Regions from separate parts of the Homo sapiens genome. Here all the other regions are linked to region 3. Evidence: fine-mapped expression QTL. A gene starts in region 3. Each other region holds a variant in brackets. All regions are shown on one strand. Distances are from middle to middle.

Region 1 (8,188 bases), 62 kb after region 3:
TTAGAACAGAACAGAACAGGATGGAGATTTTCACAGTGCCTTTCTATATAATGTCTGTAATCTATAGATAACATAACCGATTAAGTCAGGGGTGGATCTTTAACCAGGCCCAGGGTGCGGTGCCGGGCTGTCTGCCTGTGGATTTCATTTCTACCTTTTAGTTTTTACTTCTTCTTTCTTTGGAGGCAGAAATTGGGCATAAGACAATATGAGGGGTGGTCTCCTCCCTTACAATCAAGTAACTTTTAAAAAAGTAAGTGCTTATCATATTGGTAGAAGTTAGCTCAGGTGCCTTTTAATTCACATAACCTTGGTAATCTTTGGTAAAATTAATTTGGTAAATTTAATCCTAAAACTCTCCTGTAATTTAAAAGTCTTTGAGTCATATTAAACCCTCAGGATTTTTTCCCACTGGAAATTTGGGTTACTAAAAAGTTAAAATAGTAGAAGCATAAAATATGCCTTTGGTAAAAATTTTATAAATACAAGGATGTCAATTTTCAAAAAAAGTTAGTTTTGTTTCAGTTAAGAAACTAAGAGTTAGGCCGGGCATGGTGGCTCACACCTGTAATCCCAGTACTTTGGGAGGCCGAGTTGGGCGGATTGCCTGAGGTCAGGAGGTCAAGACCAGTTTGGCCAGCATGGTGAAACCCCATCTCCACTAAAAATACAAAAAAGTTAGCTGGACGTGGTGGCATGCGCCTGTAATCCCAGCTACTTGGGAGGCTGAGGCAGGGGAATTGCTTGAACCAGGTGGAGGTTGCAGTGAGCTGAGATCATACCATTGCACTCCAGCCTGGGCAACAGAGCGAGACTTCGTCTCAAAAAAAAAAAAAACAAAAAAACTAAGAGTTGCTTTATAATGAAGGAAATTATACAGATAAAACAAAATAAATAAAAAAAAAAAAAGCCAGGGCAACAAAACTCTGAGCCCTGTGGTTACCAAGACAATAGTCCATATGGGGAAAGGGTAAAACAAAGTAACTATTTAAAACCCAAGTATGTAATGTAAAGGAATTGTTCCATCTTGTAGATTGGTATCATCCAGCTTCTTTAAAAAAAATCTTTACTATAGTGGATTGTAAAAATAACCACTTTAAGAACAAAATTCTTAATTTTAAATGCTACAGAATATAAGACCTTGTTTAGATTAATGCAGGACCCACAGCTCATCACTTAACCATCACTGAGTATATTTGTTCCAAATTAACAGGGGTTTATTCCTAAGAAAGTGATCAGCCTAGTGGGCCAGATAATGCCATTGTAAGGTCTGTTTGCCTTGAGAAGGGGACTGCCCAACTCTCCCTATAAAATACTAAGTGAAGCACCCCAGATTAAGCAGTTGATATGCTTCATATGCAAGCCATGTTGGACTAACTTTATGATAAGTGGGATATCTTCCCACCAAATGTGCCTATTACCCAGGTCATGGTAAATTTTGGGGTTAAGGGAGCCCATTTTACATGGGAGCTCCTCCCACAGAATAATAGGACTGTTTAAGAAGCCTTATCAAATATGCTGTCCCTCATCAGTCTTACAAATGCAACTCCCTGTGGGAACCGAAATCCTTTTCACCAGAAAATGTAAAATGGTCTGGGGGTAAAAAAAGGGTTACTGAGACCGGAACATAAAAACATACAGGCTCATAGAATTATAAAATTAAAATGTTTAAACAAGCTTTATATAAGGTAGTTGTAACCCCTTTACTGAAAGTCTTATAAAAATGGATACTATATCAAACTTACACGGTTAGATGTTTCCCCATCTAGCAGTGTAAACTAAAGGCATATAAATCTGTTCTTTTAAGAAATGTTTAATTGCACATGCTAAATGGAAACTAGTAAGGTGCCTAAGTGCACAGAATATAGGGTAAGAGCTGGAGTGCTAGTTGGGACAAATCCTCCACTGCATAGCCCTTTATGTGGAGCTTTTATCAGGGCTGTTGGCAAAAACTGTGAGTACCTTTCAATGACAATGACTGAACTGGAGAATTTCTACTTAATGGGGCATTTACTGCCTTGCTATGAAATATTAACTGAAGCTATCCCTATGCTAATGAAAATAATGTTTCCCAAAAGAGTGCCATGATAGAATAAAAATGGTTTATATAAAATCTTGCTACCTAATAAGCAGAGAGCCTCTTTCCTAGGACTAATTGTGAGGAGCTGCTAAATTCTACAGTGCCTAATAGCTCTCAGGAGCTGTTTGGTTTGTAAATGGCATTTCAAAGGTATACAAACATCTTGTTTTAAAAGCTGCTACTCTGGTTAAAGAAAGCTCAAGAGAATCTTTTTCTTTTAAGTTATTTGGGTACAGTATGTCTTTGTAAGAAAATTTACCTTTCTGAGCTCTCCAAAATTTAGATTGAAATTTTATGACATTATAGTTGTCTGCATTAGTTCAATAATAGTAAAAACAAACAAGCAAAAAACAAAAAAAACCACAAACACAGGCTGAGCACGTGGCTCACGCCTGTAATCCCAGCACTTTGGGAGGCCGAGGCGGGCAGATCACGAGGTCAGGAGATCGAGACCATCCTGGCTAACACAGTGAAACCCTGTCTCTACTAAAAATACAAAAAATTAGCAGGGCGTGGTGGCATGCGCCTGTAATCCCAGCTATTCAGGAGGCTGAGGCAGGAGAATCTCTTGAACCCGGGAGATGGAGGTTGCAGTCAGCCGATATGGCACCACTGCACTCCAGCCTGGGCGACAGTGCGAGACTCTATCTAAAAAAAACAATTGGAGACACTGGTTATTTTACCAAGACTTAAACTAAAATAGCCTCTTTTTAAGCAAAGTTCCAGCAAAGCCAACTTAAAACGAGTCTATATGGTCAATCAATTCTCAATGTATTTTATGCAAATAATCAGGCAAGCATAATAAGCCTAAAACTTACCTTGCACACAAATTGGCCTTGCTATAATTTTATCTTTACTAAATAAAGGCAGCTAAAAAAATACTTTCAAGGGAAAAACGTAACACTTAATACTGGATTTCAGCCCTAACTTTTTCGAGTACAGATTAAATCGTTATAATTTTTCTTCATATTTTTATTTGGTGCCCTAATTGAATAGGTTTCCTTTTCTGTTCTCACATAGCAATTATTCTTTTTTTTTTTTTTTTTTGAGATGAAGCCTCGCTCTTGTCCTCCAGGCTGGAGTGTGATGGTAGGATCTCGGCTCACTGCAACCTCCACCTTCCAGGTTCAAGCAATTCTCCTGCCTCGGCCCCCCTGAGTAACTGGGATTACAGGCGCCTGCCACCACTTCCGGCTAATTTTTGTATTTTTAGTAGAGACGGGGCTTCACCATGTTGGCCAGGCTGGTCCAGAACTCCTGACCTCAGGGGATCCACCCGCCTCGGCCTCCCAAAGTGCTGGGATTACAGGTGCCAGGCCTCAATGACTCTTATAATTGTCAAACTATAAATGTTATCTATCTCTCCTTGTTTTACTTCCAAGGAAACCAAAGCCATGGTATTCTAAAGACCAGAGATATGAATCTCCCTCATTTGGCATCCCCCTGGGCCCAGATCTGTTTCACTGCTAATGCTCTGCTACTAAAACCTTACAAGCTGCCTCGCTGTAGGCCCAGGGACTATCGTGGAAGAGATGGGTGCATAATATTGTAAGGGTCAGTTTTGAGGGACTAAGTCAAGGTCAAACCCTCCAAATCTAAAAGGGGGTACAAAAATGCCTAAATATCTGGTAAAACAAGTTTAATTGCCTTCTAAACTATCATGTGTCACTTTTGCATCCACCACGACCATAAAAATTTTCTGCTTACTATAGAATTAGAAGGAAATATTTACTAACTAGTAAAATAACCGGATAAAAATACCTTGTAACAAAGCCTCCTGGGTATAACACTCCCAATTATGAGTTGTGAAGATAAATATATCTATATCTATATAGCTATAGATATAGATATGTTTAATTATTTTTCAGAACAATGCTAATGTTTTATATAGCTAATTGCTAAAAGTCTGTAACAAAAACCAAGCTTATAGTAGTTCAACACATAGAAGTTAAAAATAAGTGTCTTGTAACTTTGCCTTTTGGTTTTGTTGTTGGCTTTTTTACTTAAAATAATAATTTTAAGAAGTAACAAATGCCTGTCCACATCCATTCCTAGCTGGCCTAGAACAATTAATTGGCTATAAGTCTTTTGACTCTTAAGGCTCTCAGCCATAGGGAGTCCTGCCGAGGGACAAAAAGAAATGACACTGTAGAATGACTTCTCCTGTGACAAAGCCTTCTTTTCTCTCCCAAATACCAGTATATGGTGCAATACAAAAGTGGTGGGAAAAATAGATTTTTCTACTGTTAGCAAGTCTATAACAATTTAGACACTGAGGACCGGGTGTTTCTTGCAATTGATTAATACCCTCCTCAGGTTGTTATACCTATAGAGATAAATTGGCTAGAAGAGACACTAAATTTATTGGATTCTGATTTAATGTCACTCCTACTATCCTCAAATAAGATTTATCATAAAGTTCAAATAACCCTTAACAAGGGGGTTGAACACATTGTGAGTTTGATCCAAGAATATAATAATGCATACAGGGGATTTTCTGGCAGATTGGGTTGTTTACTGCCCTCTGATTCTACCTATAACCTTGGACACTCAATCTTCACTATCTTTATTATATTTCTTACTATATTAGCATTATACAACTCTTGTAAATGTTATGCCAGATACAGCAAAAGGAAAAGGTACAATTAAGGACCCGGATCATGATAGCTCGCAAAATACATCTGGCCCGGGAATTTTTTTTGTTT[A/G]TTTTTACTAAACCCTAGGCCTGACTCCATCTCACCCCTTAAACAAATGGCTATTATATTGGTTCAGACCATGTCCTCCCCCGTGATCCAAATAGCTAATATTTATTTATTTATTTATTTACTTATCTATTTTTTCATACAGAGTCTCAATCTGTTGCCCAGGCTGGAGTGCAGTGGCACGATCTCGGCTCACTGCAACCTCCGCCTCCCAGGTTCAAGTGATTCTCCTGCCTCAGCCTCCCGAGTAGCTGGGATTACCGGTGCATGCCACCACGCTCTGCTAATTTTTTTGTCTTTTTTTTTTTTTTTTTTTTTTTTAGAGACGGGGTTTCACTGTCTTGGCCAGGCTGGTCTTGAACTCCTGAACTTGTGATCCACATGCCTTGGCCTCCCAAAGTACTGGGATTACAGGTGTAAGCCACCACACCCAGCTTAATATTTAAAAGTATTACCATCAAATCAGAGAGCTCTAGGAACGAGCCTTCCTAGTGCCAGGAAACCTTGCCAGATGGCCAAACCAGACAACTCTAGGAATGAGCCTTCCTAGCACTGTGGGACCTGCTGCTGTTTGTTGGCCTGAACATTTGTCCAAGGGGGGGCACTGAGGACTAAGCTCTGATTTTTTTTTTTTTTTTATCATGCCCAAATTCCTATCTGAGGGGTCTGGAGAGTCATGCCCTGAAAACCACAAATTCTCATCAGATGGGTTTTATTTAACCCTATATGTTGTGACTTACTTTCCAGTCTGACTCTGGCATAACATTATGTGACAAATAAGAAAGTCAAAATATTTTACCTCAAAACATGTTTCTTTGCCATATCTTGAAATGGCCCTGCAAAGCTGTCCTTTGCGGTGGAAAATCTGCATCTGTAAACAATCTCTATTAACATAGCTAGATCTTTTTCTTCCAGGCCCTTCCAATCCTAAAGAGATTAAGCAAGAGTCTACCACCATTAAAAATTGGAATAGGAAACATTTGTCATCTATTGTCTCTAAGGGCAGCCACTGTAAAATTTTAAAAGAACCTTGGTCTCCACAATGTTTTATTTTATCAGGAACATTTCCTTTCTATTGATCCCAGGTCTTTAGACAAACTGGACAAATTGTCAACCAGAAAATGTTTAAATTTACCTATTGCCTGGAAGCCCCCACTTTGAATTGTCCCACCTTTCTGAACCAAACCAATGTGTTTCTTAAATGTATTTGATTGATATCTCATGGCTCTATAAAAATGTATGAAACCAAGCTGCACCTTGACCACCTGGGACACATGTTCTCAGGACCAGCTTCCTAAGGGCTGTGTCACGGGCCATGGTCACTCATATTTGGCTCAGAACAAATCTCTTCAAATATTCTACAGAGTTTGACTCTTTTTGTTGACAGTATAAACCCAAAACAAGTGAAGATCATGATTTGAGGCCAGTATAAATTATATAAGAATCTTTTTTCTCATCATGAGATGAAAGAAAGCTGTACCATGGATGGTTGGATATTTGCTATGCTTTTCATATACCTAACATGAGAAAGCTAAATATTTTTAGCTAAATATTTTTATAAATGCTAATAATATATGCCAGATTATCCTTGTTCATGGCCTAACTTTCAAGCTGAATTAGACTTGCCCTGATGGTATCTATAGAGGCAAGACAAAGTCATAATATCTTACCCCAATACACATAAAACACGATATTAAAAATCATGCCAAACATTTAGTAAGCTGAAAGTACTCAATTTTACGTGTAGGGTATGTGTTAGCAGTTTTACGAGGCAAAAGCTATGTTTTTTGATACCTAGGATAGAACCTTTTCCCCAAATCAGCTCAGTTATTCTGCTTCTGAAAATACTGACAATAGAATACAATCATCTTTCCCTCCCTAATCCAAATACAAATTTTAACATTTCATAATTGATTTCACTGAAATCGAGGAACTGGTAGGTAGGGACTAACAGAGCAAGATGGGAGTAACCATTTTGAATAAAAAAGAACCTTAAATATTCTAATCAGAAATAGAATTGCCATCCTACTATGGCCATTTTGACTGTCTCATAATGTCCTGCTTAGATTTTATTGTTTATCCCCAAATATTTACTATTATGTGGGTTTGATTTTGATGGTGAAAATATATTTGAAGCAAAATAATAAAGGCAATATAATTAGTAACTGTGAATTGGACCATAATAGGAAAAGCTCATAATAGTGTGAGATCACTGTATTAATATTCTGAAAATTCCAGCTATCACTATTGATGACCTACATACATAATCTCTACCATAAAAGTTTCTATTTGCTTCTTAGGAACAGACTATAATATTGAATTTCTTGATTAGAAATTTCTTAAGTGGTAATGTTTCAACAATCTACAAATATCAAACATATTCATAGCATAGCTCTCTACTAAATCAATGATCTCTAGTGACATGGACAGAAATTTTATTCTTTTTTTTATAGTTACATATCATAATGTAAACATTTTGTAAAGATCTCTTGGAGGCATGTAAAATCTAAAATACAAAGGTTAAAAAGTGGTTTGCAAACCATGCAATAAAGCTTTTACTAAAAACTAGGTAAAAACAAAATTCTCCCTCTCTTTCTGTTTCAGATGTTCAATAGCCACGCATGGCTAGCGGCTACTGTATTTGGATTGTGTAGATATAGGATGTTTCCGCCATTGCAGAAAGTTTTATTAGACAGTATTGCCTTCATCCCTCCATCTCCCCTTTAACAAGAGTAGATCATAGGTAATATACTAAAGTTAACTTTTACACTTCAAAAAAGAGTTTATAAAGTCTTCTCAAGTGAGATTTAGTGTAATTTACAAATTAACATATTTAAATGCAAAGACTTTTTTTTTTTTTTTGAGACACGGTCTTACTCTGACACCCAGGCCGAATTGCAGTGGCTCAGTCACAGCTCGCCACAGCCTCAACACCCAGCCCCCCTCCCCGGGCTCAAGGGATCCTCCCACCTCAGTCTCCTAAGTAGCTGAGACTACAGGTGTGCACCATTATGTCTGGCTTTTTTTTTTTTTTAATTTTGTTTTTGTTGAGATGGGGTTTTGCCATATTGCCAAAACTGGTCTCGAACTCCTAAACTCAAGCAATCTGCCCTCCTTGGCCTCCCAATGTGCTGGGATTAGAGGCATGAGCAACTGTGCCAGGCCTGAAGAAGTTTCTCTATGTCTCTTTTTCTTCTGTGCTCCAGGTAAGAGAAAATTTGGCATGTATTGAAAATGTAATGTCAATAACATTGTTAGCATCCAAATAAATTATTTTAAACGTGCATGAAAGTAAAACACTAAGCATATATTTTTCCTGCTGAGTAGTTTTTGTTCTCTTTTATTTGAAGTGTTAAGGATTAAACTTACCTTCAGAAAATTAAAACTTTTTTAGCCTACTAAGATT
Region 2 (8,188 bases), 810 kb before region 3:
CATGCTTCTCTGATTTAAATGTGCAAAGAGTTAAGTATTCCTCCATAACTACTATTAGCCATCGCTTAAGGTATATTTCCTACCTAGTTATCAAAACTGTTAGATAACACAATGCAAAACAGAACAGAGCCTTTAAATTTGAGAATGAATTATCTGCTTCTAATTCCTGGGGTTTCATGAGGAAAATAGGGTTTTGTTTCCCAAGGAGTCCCAGGCTACCAGAAGTTATCTTAGGACCTCTCTTGTGTGCATTATGAGTGGCAAGACAAAAAATGGAGAAAAATAATTCAATTGACTGAAAATTTAAAAAAAAACACTTTTTCCAGAAAAGCAAGATCCAAGAAGAGAAAAACATAAAGGCCTTTTAAATATACCTACAACTTGAATATACACTTTTAATTAAGCTGAGCACTCTTTAAGAAAATCCTTTTAAATCCCTTGTTACTCTACTTTAGCCATGCTGAGAGTTAAGATTTTTGGCTTTTGAGCTTCACAAAAGGTAACCTAACCGGTGAAACCAACAAGCCATAATTAGGTTATGACTTAACCACGAATGTATGAGGTATTTTCAAAGGGGTGATAAGCAGCTTTTGAAACCATTATTGCAAAATTGTGACTGAGAAAGTGAAAGAGATTCGACCCAACCAATTCCATTTTGTTTTCAGCCCCCAAGCTTGCCCATCCCTGGACATAGGCCAAACCAACATTGGGAGGAGCCTGGTTTACAGTTTATAGTCCAAAACAAAGGTGATAACAACGCCTTCCTAAGACAGCTTCCCTTTTGCCTGGGGAACAGACCAAGAAACTCTCCACAAGATTAGAAACCGTGGCTTAGGAATAACGTAGGTGGAGGCTGCAAGATTTTGACTCTCCCTTAACTACTCTCAAGATCAGTGCTTAAGGTATTTTGTAAACCCTGCCTTTGATGGATTAGCTGGCCCCTCCCCTATTGATAAACTGGCTTATCTGATTTTATGGTCCTCACCCAAGGAACTGACTTAGCACAAGAAGACAGCCACCATTGTAAAATGGCAGAGACTAAAATAAAGTATTGCCACGTGGTTACAGGTCATTTTGCCAAGAACATGTAACAAGATGGAGACCTGTTGACGTGTTTGTTATTGACTATTTTGTTGGGCTGGCTTGAACAGCAGGTTTATGGAGTCCTACGCCTGTATCCTAACCTAAGGTATCCTTTCTTTTGACAGAACCATACAGAAAGACACACAAAGTACACCAGATTGGCTACAGCTTAAGAACAACCTTGCAAATACTTTTTCATCAATTAAAACTTAAGAATATAAACAATGATCCTTATTATTTCTTTTACCAGTTTTCACAGGGAGAGAGAAACAAAAAGGCCAACTGGTAAGAAATTTTTACCCTTTTGCCAGCATGTCAGGCTTCTGGGTTCCCTTCCCCATAGCTCAACTCTAAGCCAAGCATTTTAAGGTTTGCAAATTTAACTTTTCCAAGGTTGGAAGAGCATTATGAAAGGAGATAAAGCCATTTTAAACCATGAAAGAAGGAAAAATACCATAGAAAAGTCTGGGGGTTTCAATTAGGGTCATCAAGACTGCCTCTCTTCCTATTGGGAATGTGTTTCTCCTATTTCTTTGCCTTCCCTATTTTTTCTTTTCCCTTTTGGCCTACTATAGGAGAGATATTGCTCATCTCCAAAATTCTCTCCTGATTGCAGAGCTGCCGGTTTTTCAGCTGCAGTTAGGGTTTGGCTTAGGAGCATCCTAACGTCCCTTCATGAGAGATCAAAAACCTGAGTTAAATTTTGGAAAGCTTCTATATACTTATCAGCATCATTAGAAAATTGGCCTAAATCTCCCTTTATTTGAACAAGGTCCTTTAATGAGAAGGGAACTCAATGGGGCCCCAAATAAGGGGGATCCTCAGATGGTGCCCCTGGAAGTTGTTTCTCTAATTTGGGTGAATCATTCTTTATAGGTCTGCCTGATATGGCTGCTAAAAGAGCTGGGTTGATTGTGCAATGCTTACAAAGGTCTAGTAAGAAGGCCTTGCCCTTGTGCAAAAGAAAATGAGCCACTTTTTCTTCAAAATCTCAGGGTCAAAGGAGCTCCTGTGCTTCAGAATGCACTCCAGGAGTGCAAGCTGAAGATGGTCTGTTACCCATCTTGAAAGAGATGTGAGAAAAAGGAGTCCTTTTAGTCTCCTTCCTTTTGGTGTGACCCAGGGTGTTGAGGAAGAGAGCAGGGGCATCCTCCCTGCTGTTTCCCCTCCACGGTTCCTGGGTACTGGCACCTTGTTAAATGTGCTGCCCATGGCTGCAGGCATGAACTCCAGCCATGGAACCAAAGGAACTAAGTGATTAAGATTAGTCATGCTCACCCATGTGGCTCTGGTCATCTGTCTGTGATCTCTGTTTGACTTCTTAGACTTGTGTGACCTGCCTGACTCCCTGAAAAATGGATCTCAGGAGAGACTATGTGACAGTTGCATTTCCCTCCTTACTGGAGGAAGTGTGCTGGTTTCAGCTCTATATCCTGCTTTTATGGCCCATGCTAAAGCATTTGCCCTTAGAGAATGGTCCTGGTTAACTTCTGAACTTTAAATGCCCTTATTTATTAATTACCATTTAAATTGGAGGCAGAATAGATGCTTTAAAAATGTAGGGGCTGAATGGCCATTTTCCTGCTGATGGGACAGTATCAAGAGTAAAATTTGGTTCCAGAGAACATTTTACTCCCAATTGTTGAAGGTAAAGTTTTCCTGTTCACAGAAGCAGCATAAAACCTGGTCTCTGGTAAAGGGGCAAAAAAAAAGGGAGAATTGGGAAGCTAGAGTGTTTCAGGAAAGGACCAAAAATGTGCCTCATGGAGAGGATCTCTATTCCACTAGGTGGGTCTGTTGACCTTGAAATGCCATGTGCTCTCCAGACCAAGGGCAGAGAGTGATGCTCACTGTGGTGGGTGGGGACCCTCTGTTCCTAGAAAATCACAAAGGTGCCCTCCCTTGAGCTATATCCCCAGTTACTATGACATTCCCTGATCTTGCCAAACAAGATTACTTCCCTGAACTCTAAAACTTCCTGCACATTGCATACACAGAGAGGATAAGAGATATGGCAGTTGCAAACAGGAAAGGAGGTAATTACAATAGGAAAGTTGGAGATCCTATTGCCAAAATCCCATCAGGCAGTTGGAGGCAGGGGTCAGTCCAGAAGCCTTTGGATAACACTGGGGATAGCCTCAGCCAGAAATCCTCAGTTACCTCAGGACTTCTTCCAGCTCCACATGACAGCTAATTCCTCTATGAAAGGAAGCTGGTTCAAACATGGCCAAGATGCCCAGCAACCCATGGGTGCTGGGGAATTCTCCATGTTCTCCCCATTAAGCCTGTCCCCCAAATCTTGTAAGGCTGGCAGCCACACTAATCATTTTTAAATGACTGAAAGGGGACTAGTATTTGGTTTGATTTGGTTCTAAAATGGAGGCCAAGAATCTCAAAATGAAAAGACAGAGTTGAAGTCTACTCCTCTACTCACTGTTACGATGAATGTTGTACCTTGATATCCTGGACGAGCCCCCAGTATGAAGTGGATATGTTGTCTGGGGTATATACCCTGGGTTTGTTGTCTCACACCAGGAAAATTTAGGACACAGAGACACATTAGGAGTTTAGGAGCAGAGGTTTAATAGGCATAAGAGAAGAGAAAGAGAAGCAGCTCTCTCTATAGAGAGAGGTCTCCAAGCAGAAAGGACCAGTGGGCAGTGGATGTGCTGGATCTTATAGTTAGGTTTGAGGAGGTAGTGTCTGATTTACATAGGACTCACAGATTGGTTTGATCAGTTATGACATTTACATAGTGCATGGGGAAGGCTGGCTGCCCCACCCTACTCTTATTATGCAAATGAACTCTCCCATTGACCACTGCTATCTATTCTGCTCCTTACTGTACACGTGGCTGATAAAGAGAAGGGAAGCTGGGGCCACCATTTTGAACATGATTAGCACAGCTGCTGGCATCTATGGCTACAGCTCGATTTTACAGGCTGCTCTTTGTTAGAAAAGAAAATGATTTGGGGCTGCTTTACATTAAAAGGAAAACATTACTGAGGACATTTGTGCCCTCACTATCTATCTGCCTAAGTAATTTTTTCTTAAGTCTTTTATCAGTAGTTTGATACAAGTAGCATTGAATCTGTAGATTGCTTTTGGCAGTATGGCCATTTTAAGAATATTGATTCTTTTACCAATGAGCAGGGAATGGTTTTCCATTTGTGTCAACTCTGATTTCTTGTAGCAGTGTTTTCTAATTCTCATTATAGAGATTTTTCATTTTCCTGTTTAACTGTATTCCTAGGTATTTTATCCTTTTTATGTCTTTTGTGAATGGAATTGTGTTCTTGATTTGGCTTTCCCAGCTTGGATATTGTTGCTATATAGACGTGCTACTGATTTCTGTACATTAACTTTCTATCCTGAAACTTTGCTAAACTTGTTTATTAGATCAAGGAGCTTTTGGGAAGATATTATGGGGTTTTCTAAGTATATAATCATATAATCTGCAGAGATATTTTGACTTCCTGTATTCCAATTTGGATGTGTTTTATTTCTTTCTCTTGCCTGATTTCTCTGGCTAGGGCTTCCAGTACTATGTTGAATAGGACTGGTGAGAGAGGGCAATCTTGTCTTTTGCTAGTTTTCAAGAGGAATTCCTCCAGCTTTTGCCTATTCAGTATGATGATTGTTGTGGGTTTGTCATAGATGGCTCTCATTAATTTGAAGTATGATGAACTGAAATTCACATGAGAATGAATGCTATTGAATCACATTTATTTTTCTATTATTGTAAACATGCAAAATAGCGAATCCCACAGACAAATCATCTTATTTCTAAAACTTTGTGTCTATAAGAATGGAGGGAGAGTAAGAGAAATGAAATGAAGCACATGGGTGTGTAAATGTATAACTGCAAAGAGCTAGGATTGGTGAAGAAGGGACACTCGTTCTGTAATCAG[C/T]GTGTTTGTTACCACTAAGAGGGTTTTTTAATGGATGAATGGGAGAAGCCTTCCCAGGTTCTGGGATTAGGGAGGAGTCATGCCTTTTTAATAAGGAAGCAATACAAGAAGAAAGAAATTACAATTTTGTTTCTTCTCTTCCAGAGTTAAGGTATTGTAAGCAGAGTATCATAGTGTGAACTAAGGCACTCAGAATAGATGAGGATGTGCCAGAATTCAGAAGGATATCCTCAGGTTCTGAAATGACTGCTGGAAACAAAAACAACTAGAGCTTTAAGAAAAGTTAGAGAGTTTGGAACACTAGAAACAGTATAGAACATTGGGGAGCTGAAACAAATGTGTTCCCTAACTTTTCAGTTATTAAAGTTGAGATAATGAGCGTTCAAAAGAGTAGGGTTTGGATTAAAATGTGGAATTTTAATCTTGCATAAATTATATATGGACATTACTTGTTATAACTTATTTTTGTTAAAATTATATTTTTTTATAAATTTGTATTAAGAGCTAAGAAAGGGATATTCAATATGCGTTTTTAAATAGAAGCTATTTCCAGAACTGCTAAAAGGGATGTGTGTGTGTGTGCATGTGTGCGTGTGTGTGTGTGTGTCCAGGAGCATAGGTCTGGTAGTGTGAGTGAAGCAGATAGAAATGTTAGTCAAAGGTAAGTTATGTTATGACAATTTCAGTTTCATGAAAGATGAACAAACTCAGACTATTTAAAGAAGACAGAAATCTTGTTTTGTGGAGTTGGAAGGTTCAGAGCTTCAAGCAGAATTGATGCCAGACCCTCAAGGAATGGCTTTCTCTTTCTCTTCTTTATTCTGATTTCCTCTGTGTGTGCTTCATCCTCTGGAAAAATCTCTTCCCACAGTAGTAGCAGGTACAGGCTTACATTACATCTCTCAAATTGCAAAGATAGGAAGAAATTTATTAAGGTCCAACAAGAGTCCTAGAATCTTCCCTCATTGAGAAACTTAGGTCACTTGCTCATTCCTGGACTAAACATTTTGTCCAAGAAGATTGGACACTCCTATTTGAAAAGTCTAAGTCATCTTACTACTCCTATGGTCACAGAGAGCAGTCAGCCCAACAATAATTTTCGGTTACCAGAGGGGGAATGGGGTGGGAGAGGAGCACGTTGAGCAGACAAAACTATAGCTAACACAAAAGACTACCAGCAACATTTCCAAACTGATGATATGAGGCCACACATGAATGTAACAAACCCCAAAATAAATAACTTCAATCATAATTGTCTGGATATTTGGTGTAAAAGTATAGCTGGGATGTTTGCCCATTTTTAAAGAAAATAGCCTTCTTTCTTATATTAAGCTTTCTTCATTGTAGTCTTTGGACAAACTGTATCAGAATTATTTCAGGATGCTTGTTTAATAATGTAATTTCCTGGGGTCTACCCTAAACCTCTTGAAGCAGAATCTGGATTGTTGGCTAGGAATCTACACCACCTTAGGTAATTATTAAGTGCACTAAAGTTCCAGAATAATGTCCATTTTTTATTTAGACACATTGAATTTTTTTTTTTTTTTTTTTTTTGAGACAGGGTCTCACTTTGTGACCCAGGCTGGAGTGCAGTGGTGTGATCTTGGCTCATTGCCTCCACCTCACAAACTCAAATGATCCTCCTGCCTCAGCCCCCCAAGTAGGTGGAAATACAGGCTGGCTAATTTTTGTATTTTTGTAGAGATGGGGTTTCACCATATTTCCCAGGCTGGTCTCGGACTCCTGATCTCAGGCAATTCTCCTGCTTTGGTCTCTCATAGTGCTAGGATTATAGGCATGTGCCACCATGCCTGGCCTAGACATCTTGAATTTTAATACCAGGAGAAGCCATTATGTTTGGGTTTGTAATTGGGTTGTAATCCAGTCAATATCATTGTTGTTGCTCAACAGATACTTGATTTATTGAATAATCATATCCTACTAGTTTAGACTAATTAGTTGGAAGCCCCAAGACTTATTGAAAATTCAAAGCTATAAGTCATTTTAAAAAAGAAATAGGAGATGGCTGACTACATACAGCCAGGTGGAAAAGCTGCCACCAAGAGACCAAGATGACTGGTACACTCCTAACATATATTCAGAGAGAAGGCATGGAGAATAAATAGAAGGAAGACATAGCAGCTGGTCTGAAGGGGGAGGAAGCTGGGAACTCTGCATGGGGCTACCCCACACCAGGACTTGTTTCTGGCCCCCAGTGACCCCTGGGAATGGGTGAGTTGAACTGGCAAGGAGCAATCCAATCTTGCCATGGGCCTCTGGAATTTCAGCAGTAGGAGACCCCTCAACCACCATGAACACTTGAGTTGGCAGGGAGAGGTGCTTAGAGAAGTGGTAGGGGCAGCATGCCAGTTGAGGTGGAGCCCAGAGGGTTTTGTGTGGGAGCATCTGTAGTGGTGTAAGGCCAGGAAAGCCCATCTCCCTAGGCTCTATTTGCTCCTTTAGCTTTAGGGGAATTGTTACGCCTGAACTCTTCAGGGCCATCTTGTGAGGTCGGTCCCACCTGAGTACCCCTTGATCTGCTGGCCTCTCCCTGGGCCCTAGCCTGGCTGGGCCTGCTTGCAGGGAAGCCTTGGGTGCCCTCGGGGCCTGTATCATAGCTTCTGTGCTGGTGGACTGTTTTTGACTAGTGAAGAGCTCCAGCAGGGTGGCCCCCACAGCCATATGCCAGCCTGCCCACTCATTTCCCATACTACAGCTTCCTCTGAGCTCACAGGAATTCCCCACATCACTTTGCTGCTGCGTGTGTCCACAGGCAGGTTTTGCCTTCCTTGCCTCACCAGCATGCATGTGTGTGGTCACCTTCCCTTGCCACTGCGGTGGTGGATTCACTCCACTTCCCCCTACCCCGGCTGGACCATTATTGCAGTCACAGCTTTGGCAGGCACAGAGCCAGCCAGCCCTGCCCCCTCCAGTGCCACTCCCTTGAATCAACACTGCCATGGCAGTGAAACTGGGCACAGGGAACAGCAGACACTCCCCCACCCTGAGAAACCACCCCTGCCTGTGGCACAGAGAGTGCACACAGAACTGTGCCCACCAGTGCCTCACCCCTGTGCTAACACCACCACCAGGGTGACTGTGTGCACACGTGACAGCAGCCCCTCCCCATCACCCCCAAGCCATGCTGCCTCTGCCACCATGGTGAATTCTGGGAAAGAAGCAGTCACACTGGC
Region 3 (8,188 bases):
TTCTTTGTCTCCTTATCCACAGTGGATGACTATTTGGATAAATTCCCTAGATCTTCTATCATTCTCACTTTGACAACACTCAGCATTGGAGCAACCCCACTGTCTCCTCTTCCCCTCCTATGCTGTGAGCACTGCTGGAGAAAGTCACTACTAGAGCCAACATTAGCCAGGCCCTCACTTCTCAGCAATTATTAATATTTTATTCAATGTCTACTGATACTTTACTGAATTTCCTAAAGCACCTTTTCCAAGCCTATCCCATTCTTAAACTCCTAAAGGCATATTTTCCTCTCAGCAGATGACCTTCCACCCAGAAGATACAGACCTCCAATGTGAGCTCCCTCCTCTACCTCCTCCGTTCTTCAAAATCACTTGGTATCTTCACCTTCTATCTCGACCAACTCTGGCCTTTGAAGCAAAGTGTGTCTCCTCTTTGCAAGGTTAATCCCTCCACTTGTTCTCTTGATTTTACCACTTTCTTACAAAGTATGGTTAAGAGTCCAGGTTCAGGACTCATACCATGTGATTTCAGATCCAGCTCTACCACTTTACTCCTGTGTGACCTTGGAGTTACTTGACCTTTTTAAGCTTCTGTTTCCCTACCTGTAAAAAGTGATTAATATAAATTCCTACTCATAGGGCCAATGTGAAACATAAATGAGAGAATCCACATAAAGTGCTTAGCAAAATTCCTAGCACGTAGTCAATATTCAATAACACAATAGCTGTAAATACTATTATCTTTCCCTCTAGATACCTCCTGGTACATTTTCCCTTGTCTCCAAAGTAGCTCAAGTCTTCTGTCTCCTGTTTTGTTTTTAGTTTTTTTTTTTTTTAATTAAAAGACACCTTTTCTGGAATTTGCTACCCTCATTCCAAGATTTTGTTCCTTCTTTTCACCACCAAACTTCTCTAAAGAGTAATGTATAACTCCTTTCCAGAGGAAGCAAGGAGGAGTGGAAAGACTTTGGAGATAAATATACTGTTTGAACCTAGTTCTTCCACTTAGTGGTTGTATGACCTGGAGCAAGCAGTTTTTCTAAGCCTCCGTTTTTCCATCTGTAAAATGGATATATTACCCATTTCTTAGGGTCATCAAGAGGATTAAACTAAAATAATATATGTAAATCATCTGGCCAAAGTGGGTGCTAAATGAATGCCAGTTCTCCATCCCTTATTCTTTTCTTAACCCCATACAATCTTGGTTGTTCCTCTACCACTCTATTTATCTCTTTAGCTCACTTCAGCTCTTATTAGCATGGTTTTGAATAATCTGACTTCTCTAAACCTTAATTTTCATGTGTAAAATGGTAATAATACCCACCACATAAAGTTGTCTTGAGAATTAGTGAATTAACACATGTAACGTGTTTTAGCATAGTGCCTGGCCTGGAGTAAGCACTTAATAAATGATAACAGCAGCAACTTATTAATGGTGAAATCAAAGGACTGTTCAACTCTCTTCTTCTCAATGAAAACACACTATTCTGGTTTGCTTTTTGCCACTGACCATTCCTTCTGTCTCTGCACCTTCTCCATGAAGCCTCTTTTTACTCTCTTCAAACCAAGTGTGAGCTCTCTCCTTTTGAGCGTCAGAGCACTTTGTACTTCTCTTCAGGTAAGAAACTCCCCTTACTCTGAATCACAGTCATTTGTGTTATATGTGTTATATCTCCACCACTTAATCTCTTCTGTCCTCATTGCCTGGCACTTTATTCATGTAGAACATGTTGACTACCTAATATACATCAGACCTGTGCTAGGTACTACGGATACAAAGGTTAATATAATTACTGTCTTCAAGGAGCTTATAGTTTAGGTAGCTAGAACAGACAAGTAAGTAGTCTATATGTGCAGTGGAATAAATGCTTGGTTAAGAGTGTGCCCAGAGTCCTCTGGGAGCACAAACAAGAGTTATTAAAATAGACTGGCGAGGACCGGGCGTGGTGGCTCACGCCTGTAATCCCAGTACTTTGGGAGGCCCGGGGGGGGGGGGGGGTGAATCACGAGGTCAGGAGTTCGAGACCAGCGTGACCAACATGGTGAAACCCCGTCTCTACTAAAAAATAAAAATAAAAAAATTTAGCCGGGCATGGTTGGCATGCGCCTGTAGTCCCAGCTACTCAGGAGACTGAGGCAGGAGAATCGCCTGAACCCGGGAGGTGGAGGTTGCAGTGAGCTGAGATCGCGCCACTGCACTCAAGCCTGGGAGACAGAGAGAGACTCCGTCTCAAAAATAAAAAATAAAATAAAATAAAATAGACTGGGGAGATCAAGGACACTATTAAACAAGGCATTTTTGTGTTTTGCATATGGGGAGGCTGTACACAAATAGCTGCTGAATGAATGAATGAACTATAAATACAACTAGATAAGCATGGGAAAAGGCACTTTAGGCCCAGAGAAAGAGCACGTAAAAAAGCATGGCGGGGTCAAGCAAGCAGCTCAGTATCGACAGGAGGAGGGTTCCTGAGTGACAAGAGATGAGGCTGGAAAGTCTAGGTAAAATCAGATGTTCTAGACATAAGAGTATGGCCTGACCCCAGAGGGGAGATGATGACATGCCCATAAAATTTTTTAAATGCGGGGGGAGGCAAAAATCAAATTTGCATTTTGGTAGATGTACTCTGGCAACACAGAGGAAAACAGATTACATGAGAGCCAGGCTTGAGGTGGCAAGTTCAGGTAGGAGGTTGTTCAAATAACTCAGATGAAGTATGAGAACCAGAACTGTAGACGCTGCCGACTTAAAACTTCAGCGGAACTGAATTATTCATACTGTATCTCCTGCAAGCCTAACAGAATATTTTACAATTAAAACCCGCTACGTAAATATCTGTAGACTACCATTATTAAACACTACTTAGGGAACTGCAGCAAGCTGCCAGCTGAGTCACTCACTGTACACGGACTCCCAAGTAAAGGCACCTTTCCCAAGCGTAAAACTCGAAAGGAACAGGTTATTCGAGCACAGAAAGCAACAACACTATGTGTAAACCAGCGCACTGCTGAAAGACTATGGGACCTCTCTATCCTGGTCAGTTTCACCCCAAATGTTTCAACAAAGTCCTTCCATAGGGTCATGTGGCCTTGCCCTGTGCGCCGAGACAAATGCCAAGTTTATATATATATTTTTCTCTTTATTGCAGCTGAAGACCGAAACGTCTACTGCGGCTCGTCGCCTGGCCAGCCATTTTCACCCAGCCGTTTCCCAGTTTTGTACTGTGCCACTGTGTAAATCGACAACCACAGGGGATTGAGGGAGCAGCGTCCCAGGCTGATAAAACCCTAATGGGGAAAGGCAGGTGTCTTGAGGCTTCAAACGATAAAGATTGCAATTATCTCAAAACCCACCTCCACCCTGCCCCTTGTTTCAGGGCTCCTTCAGAAGTTAGTAGGATCCCTTTTACAGTTACCGGGATGCTATCGGCACCCACAGAAATTAAGCAAGTTGGTTTTCGCTTACCCTGATGGCCGCCATGTCTACAACCCTTTCGGCCAAGGTTTTCAGACGGAGAGCAGAGAGGGACAAATCAGTTCGACTAGGCTTCCCTTAGGACAGCCCCACCCCGTTACGCCCCTTGCCTGCCAGTTACCGCCTTTTCTCCGCCCTCCTCCAGCCGCCTTGGCAACTGCTGCGGTTTCGGTCAGCTGTCTTCTGGAGAAACTGTTCACCCCTGTGGTTGACCCTCCCGGTCCCAGATAAAGCCTTCCAGAACATTATCAATAGTCCAGTTGGGAGTTATTTTCCTGGGTGCAGAACTTTTAATTATTTTGTTTCGGGCATATGTGATATGTCCAGATAAGGACTTAATACCCAAATGTAGCTGCTTTAATAATTAATTATATAGTAAGAAAAACAACTTATTACCTCTGCGAAACATGGGTAAGTTCATTCATTCTAAAACTAAGTCACGGAGAGCATACTCTGTGCCGGGCAGTTGTTCGGGGCATAGACAAAACATAGTGGCTTCCTCACAGAGCTTATGATTACAGGAGTAAAAGAGACAAATGAGGCCGGCGCGGTGGCTCACGCCTGTAATCCTGGCACTTTGGGAGGCCGAGACGGGCGGATCACGAGGTCAGGAGATCGAGACCATCCTGGCTAACACGGTGAAACTCCGTCTCTACTAAAAGTACAAAAAAAATTAGCCGGGCGTAGTAGCGGGCGCCTGCAGTCCCAGCTACTCGGGAGGCTGAGGCAGGAGACTGGCGTGAACCCGGGAGGCGGAGCTTGCAGTAAGCGGAGATCGCGCCACTGCACTTCAGCCTGGGCGACAGAGCGAGACTCCGTCTCAAAAAAATAAATAAATAAATAAAAATAAATAATAAATTTTAAAAAAGAGACAAATGCTATGAAGGAAAATAAAACAGTATGGGAATGAGGTGGGAGTTTACTGGTTTATATCAATGAGAGAAAGACTCTGATAAGCTCATTTGATAAAAGTCCTGGAGGAATTTAGAGAAGAGGGTTGCATACGGAAGGAACAGCAATGAAAAAGTCCAGTGAGGCTGGAGCAATAATTTCAGAGGTAGCGAAGTAACACAGTGTAGGGGCTTTCGTGCCGCCAAAATAAATTTGGATTTTATGCTGAATAAGATGGGAAATCATTGGAGGATTTTGAGCAAAGGTGTGATGTGATCTAATTTACATTTTTAAAGGATGATTTTGGTGCTATCAGGAGAATATACTAAGGGTATATTGCAATATTCACAACAGGAGCAAGGTCTGCTGTAGGCCTCCCTGAAGGATTCTGAGGAAAGAAGATGCTCATAATATGCCCATTAACAGTCCCAATATTAATTCATGTATTCATTCATTCAATCAACAAATATTTATTATGTGCAAACTATATACTAGGCATTAGTTGATACCTATCACATTTCATACCCAAAACAGATCCTTTTTAACAGAACTGTCCTGTAAATGACAAAATTATTTTAAGAAATAATGATGAAATGAAACTAATAATACTGGCTACAAAAGAAACATTGAGTGACTATTTTCTTTTATTGAACTTAATATAAACATATACATACATATATATGCCAATATAAAAATAAAATGCAAAATAAATAGTACAGAACCAAAAAAGGAAAAAAATGGATCAAGGTGTTTTAATTGCATTAATGTATTTTTCAAAGGAAAAATACTTATATCTACATAGTGGTCTGCCACAGGAATGAATAATAATATTACAGTTTCTGTTTTTGAGCCTTAACCTCTGTGTATTTGTCAATAATTTCATCCAAATTTAACATTTCTGCATATTAAATAAATGGTATACCTAGATTTGTCAAGCTAACTTTGTTCATAACTGATTGATGCACACTTTTTATTGATTTTAATATCAGTCAGGTTTATTTCACAATAATCAACAGGCAAATAAGAAAAGTCTTAAAATTGTGAATAAGCTTAGAATAAATTTATAACAATCTTATTTCCCAAAAATTTCAGGAATTTCAATAACACCCATGTTTTGTTGTTGTAGTTGTTGTTGTTGCTTCTTTTCCAACTTTAACTTTTATTTTGGGTTTGGGTACATGTGCCGGTTTGTTATACAGGAAAATTGCATGTCAAGTGGGTTTGACATACAGATTATTTCCTCACCCAGGTAATAAGCATAGCACTTGATAGGTAGTTTTTCAATCCTCACATTCCTTCCACCTTCCACCGTCAAGTAGGCCCCAGTGTCTATTGTTTCCATCTTTATGTCTATGCATACTCACCATTTAGTTCCCACTTATAAGTCAGAACCTGCAGTATTTGGTTTTCTGTTCCTGCACTAGTTCACTGAGGATAATGGCTTCCAGCTCCACCCATGGTGCTGCCAAGGATATGATCTTATTCTTTTTTATGTTTTTGATGGCTGCATAGTATTCCATGGTATATATGTATCACATTTTCTTTATCCAGTCTACTGTTGATGGGCATTTAGGTTGAGTCAATGTCTTTGCTAGTGAGAATAGTGCTGTAATGAGCAGACCCATGCATGTGTCTTTATAGTAGAATGACTTATATTCCTTTGGGTATATACCCAATAATGGACTCCCTATTCAATAAATGGTGCTGGGAAAACTGGTGAGCCATAGGCAGAAGACTGAAACTGGACCCCTTCCTTATACTATAATAAAAAATTAACTCAAGATAGATTAAAGACTTAAATGTAAAACTCAAAACTATAAAAACCCTGAAAGACAACCTAGGCAATGCCATTCTGGACACAGGAACTAGCAAAGATTTCATGACAAAGACACCAAAATCATTGCAACAAAAGCAAAAACTGACAAATGGGATCTAATTAAACTAAAGAGCTTCTGCACAGCAAAAGAAACCATCAATAAACAGATAGCCTACAGAATGGGAGAAAATAATATCCAGCTTCTGTAAGGAATTTAAACAAATTTACAAGAAAATCAAACAACCCCATTAAAAAGTGGGCAAAGGACATGAACAGACACTTCTCAAAAGGAGATATACATGCGGCCAACAAGCATATGAAAAAAAGTTAAATATCAGTGATCATTAGAGAAATGTAAATCAAAATCACAATGAGATACCATCTCACACCAGTCAGAATGGCTATTATTAAAAAGTCAAAAAAATAACAGATGCTGGTGAGGTTGCAGAGAAAAGGGAACACTAATACACTGTTGGTGGGAGTGTAAATTAGTTCAACGATTATAGAAAGCAGTGTGGCAATTCCTCAAAGAGCTAGAAACAGAAATACCATTCAACTGAGCAATCCCATTACCGAGTAAATACACAAAAGAATGTAAATGGTTCTATCATGAAGACACATACACACATATGTTTATTGCAGCACTATTCCCAATAACAGACATGGAATCAACGTAAATGCCCAATCACTATAGACTGGGTAAAGAAAATGTGGTACATATATGCCATGAAATACTACACAGCCAAAAAAAGAATGATATCATGTCCTTTGAAGCAACATAGATGGAGCTGGAGGCCTTTATTTTAAACTAATGCAGGAACAGAAAACCAAATATCACATGCTCTCACTTATAAGCGGGAGCCAAATGATGAGAGCATGTGAACATAAAGAGGGGAACAACAGACATTGGGGCCCACTTGAGGGTAGAGGGTGGGAGGAGGGAGAGGGTCAGAAAAAATAACTATTTGGTGCTAGGCTTAGTACCTGGGTGATGAAATAATCTGTACAACAAACCCCTATAACACAATTTTACCTATATAACAAACCTGCACATGTACCCAAGAACCTAAAATAAAAGTTTTTAAAAAAGTAAATAAATAAAAACAATATTAACTTTTTCAATCCAAAAATAGAAAAAAATTCATAATTTCCTTACACTCATCTTTTCCTATATGAACAATCAAGAATAAATCAATGGAATGCATTCAATGCTTTTATGACCTTATCCACAAATATGGAAGCTTATGACTGGCATGTTTTTGTCAACTAAATGCTTTGACTTTACGTAAGAATGATCTATAGGACATGGAACTATTGTGTATGAGAATAAAAAGAAGTGTAATTCTCAGAATATGTCTATGTGATGTCCCAATTAGTGGCAGAAATATTTAAAAAGTCAGAAAAAATATATACTGGGCTTGAGGCAATGAACAACACAGACACAATCCCTGGTCCCAGGGAGCTTAAGTATATTTTGACTAAGACAGTAAATAAATTAAGATTATTTTAAATGCTGATAAATACTACAGAGAGTGACTATAGTATTTAGTCTCTGGTTTGGGGTGAAAGTTACTTTAGATTGGGAATACCTCTTGAAGGAGCAGATGTTTCAGCAGTCTTGAGTAAAACGTGAGTCTACTCATGTTAATGTTTGAGCACTCCAAGCAGAAGGAACAACTAATGCAAAGACCGTGAGGTGAGAATAAACTTACTGGAGCACCATAAGTAAGGCAGAAAGTGATAGAAGAGTCTGGCAGGAACCAGATCTATATAAAGAATTTGGATTTTCTTTTAGGTTATTTATTCTTAAATATTCCTTGATTTATTATTGTAAGTTTATCAATTGCCACTAATTGCTTTGGGCACAAAAGGCAGCTTTGTATAATGGAAAGTATTAGCATCAAAATAAAATCTTGGCCTCTAAAGGCAGAATCTTGAAGGAGCTGAGCCAGACCAGATGTTCCAAAAGTTAGTGTATTTGGGAATCACCTGCATAATTTGATAAA

Alleles and levels. Positions count from the first base shown, and alleles are read on the strand shown. Sizes are in standard deviations (SD) of each study's normalised expression. Not every link is listed here.
For the expression in regulatory T cells of the gene that starts at base 3,517 in region 3, A is the high allele of the variant in region 1 and G is the other (moderate effect, 0.45 SD a copy in Bossini-Castillo 2019).

What was found. PIP is the estimated chance that this variant, and not a neighbour inherited with it, causes the effect. A credible set is the group of variants that fine-mapping cannot tell apart.
Region 1: its variant is the best candidate, but not a certain one, in a credible set for the expression of APOOL in regulatory T cells (Bossini-Castillo 2019, PIP 0.84).
Region 2: its variant is the best candidate, but not a certain one, in a credible set for the expression of APOOL in lymphoblastoid cells (GTEx, PIP 0.77).

The regions. Positions count from the first base shown.
Region 1 is chrX:84,936,727-84,944,914 of GRCh38, reverse strand. No RefSeq gene overlaps it. Among named protein-coding and RNA genes, the nearest start is that of APOOL, 63 kb to the left of the region's middle. The variant A/G (reference allele first, on the strand shown) is at 4,786.
Region 2 is chrX:85,807,896-85,816,083 of GRCh38, reverse strand. No RefSeq gene overlaps it. Among named protein-coding and RNA genes, the nearest start is that of MIR1321, 24 kb to the left of the region's middle. The variant C/T (reference allele first, on the strand shown) is at 4,995.
Region 3 is chrX:84,999,206-85,007,393 of GRCh38, reverse strand. APOOL (apolipoprotein O like) reads right to left here and starts at 3,517. Exons shown (of 9, transcript NM_198450.6): 1 at 3,467-3,517. The coding sequence starts at 3,481.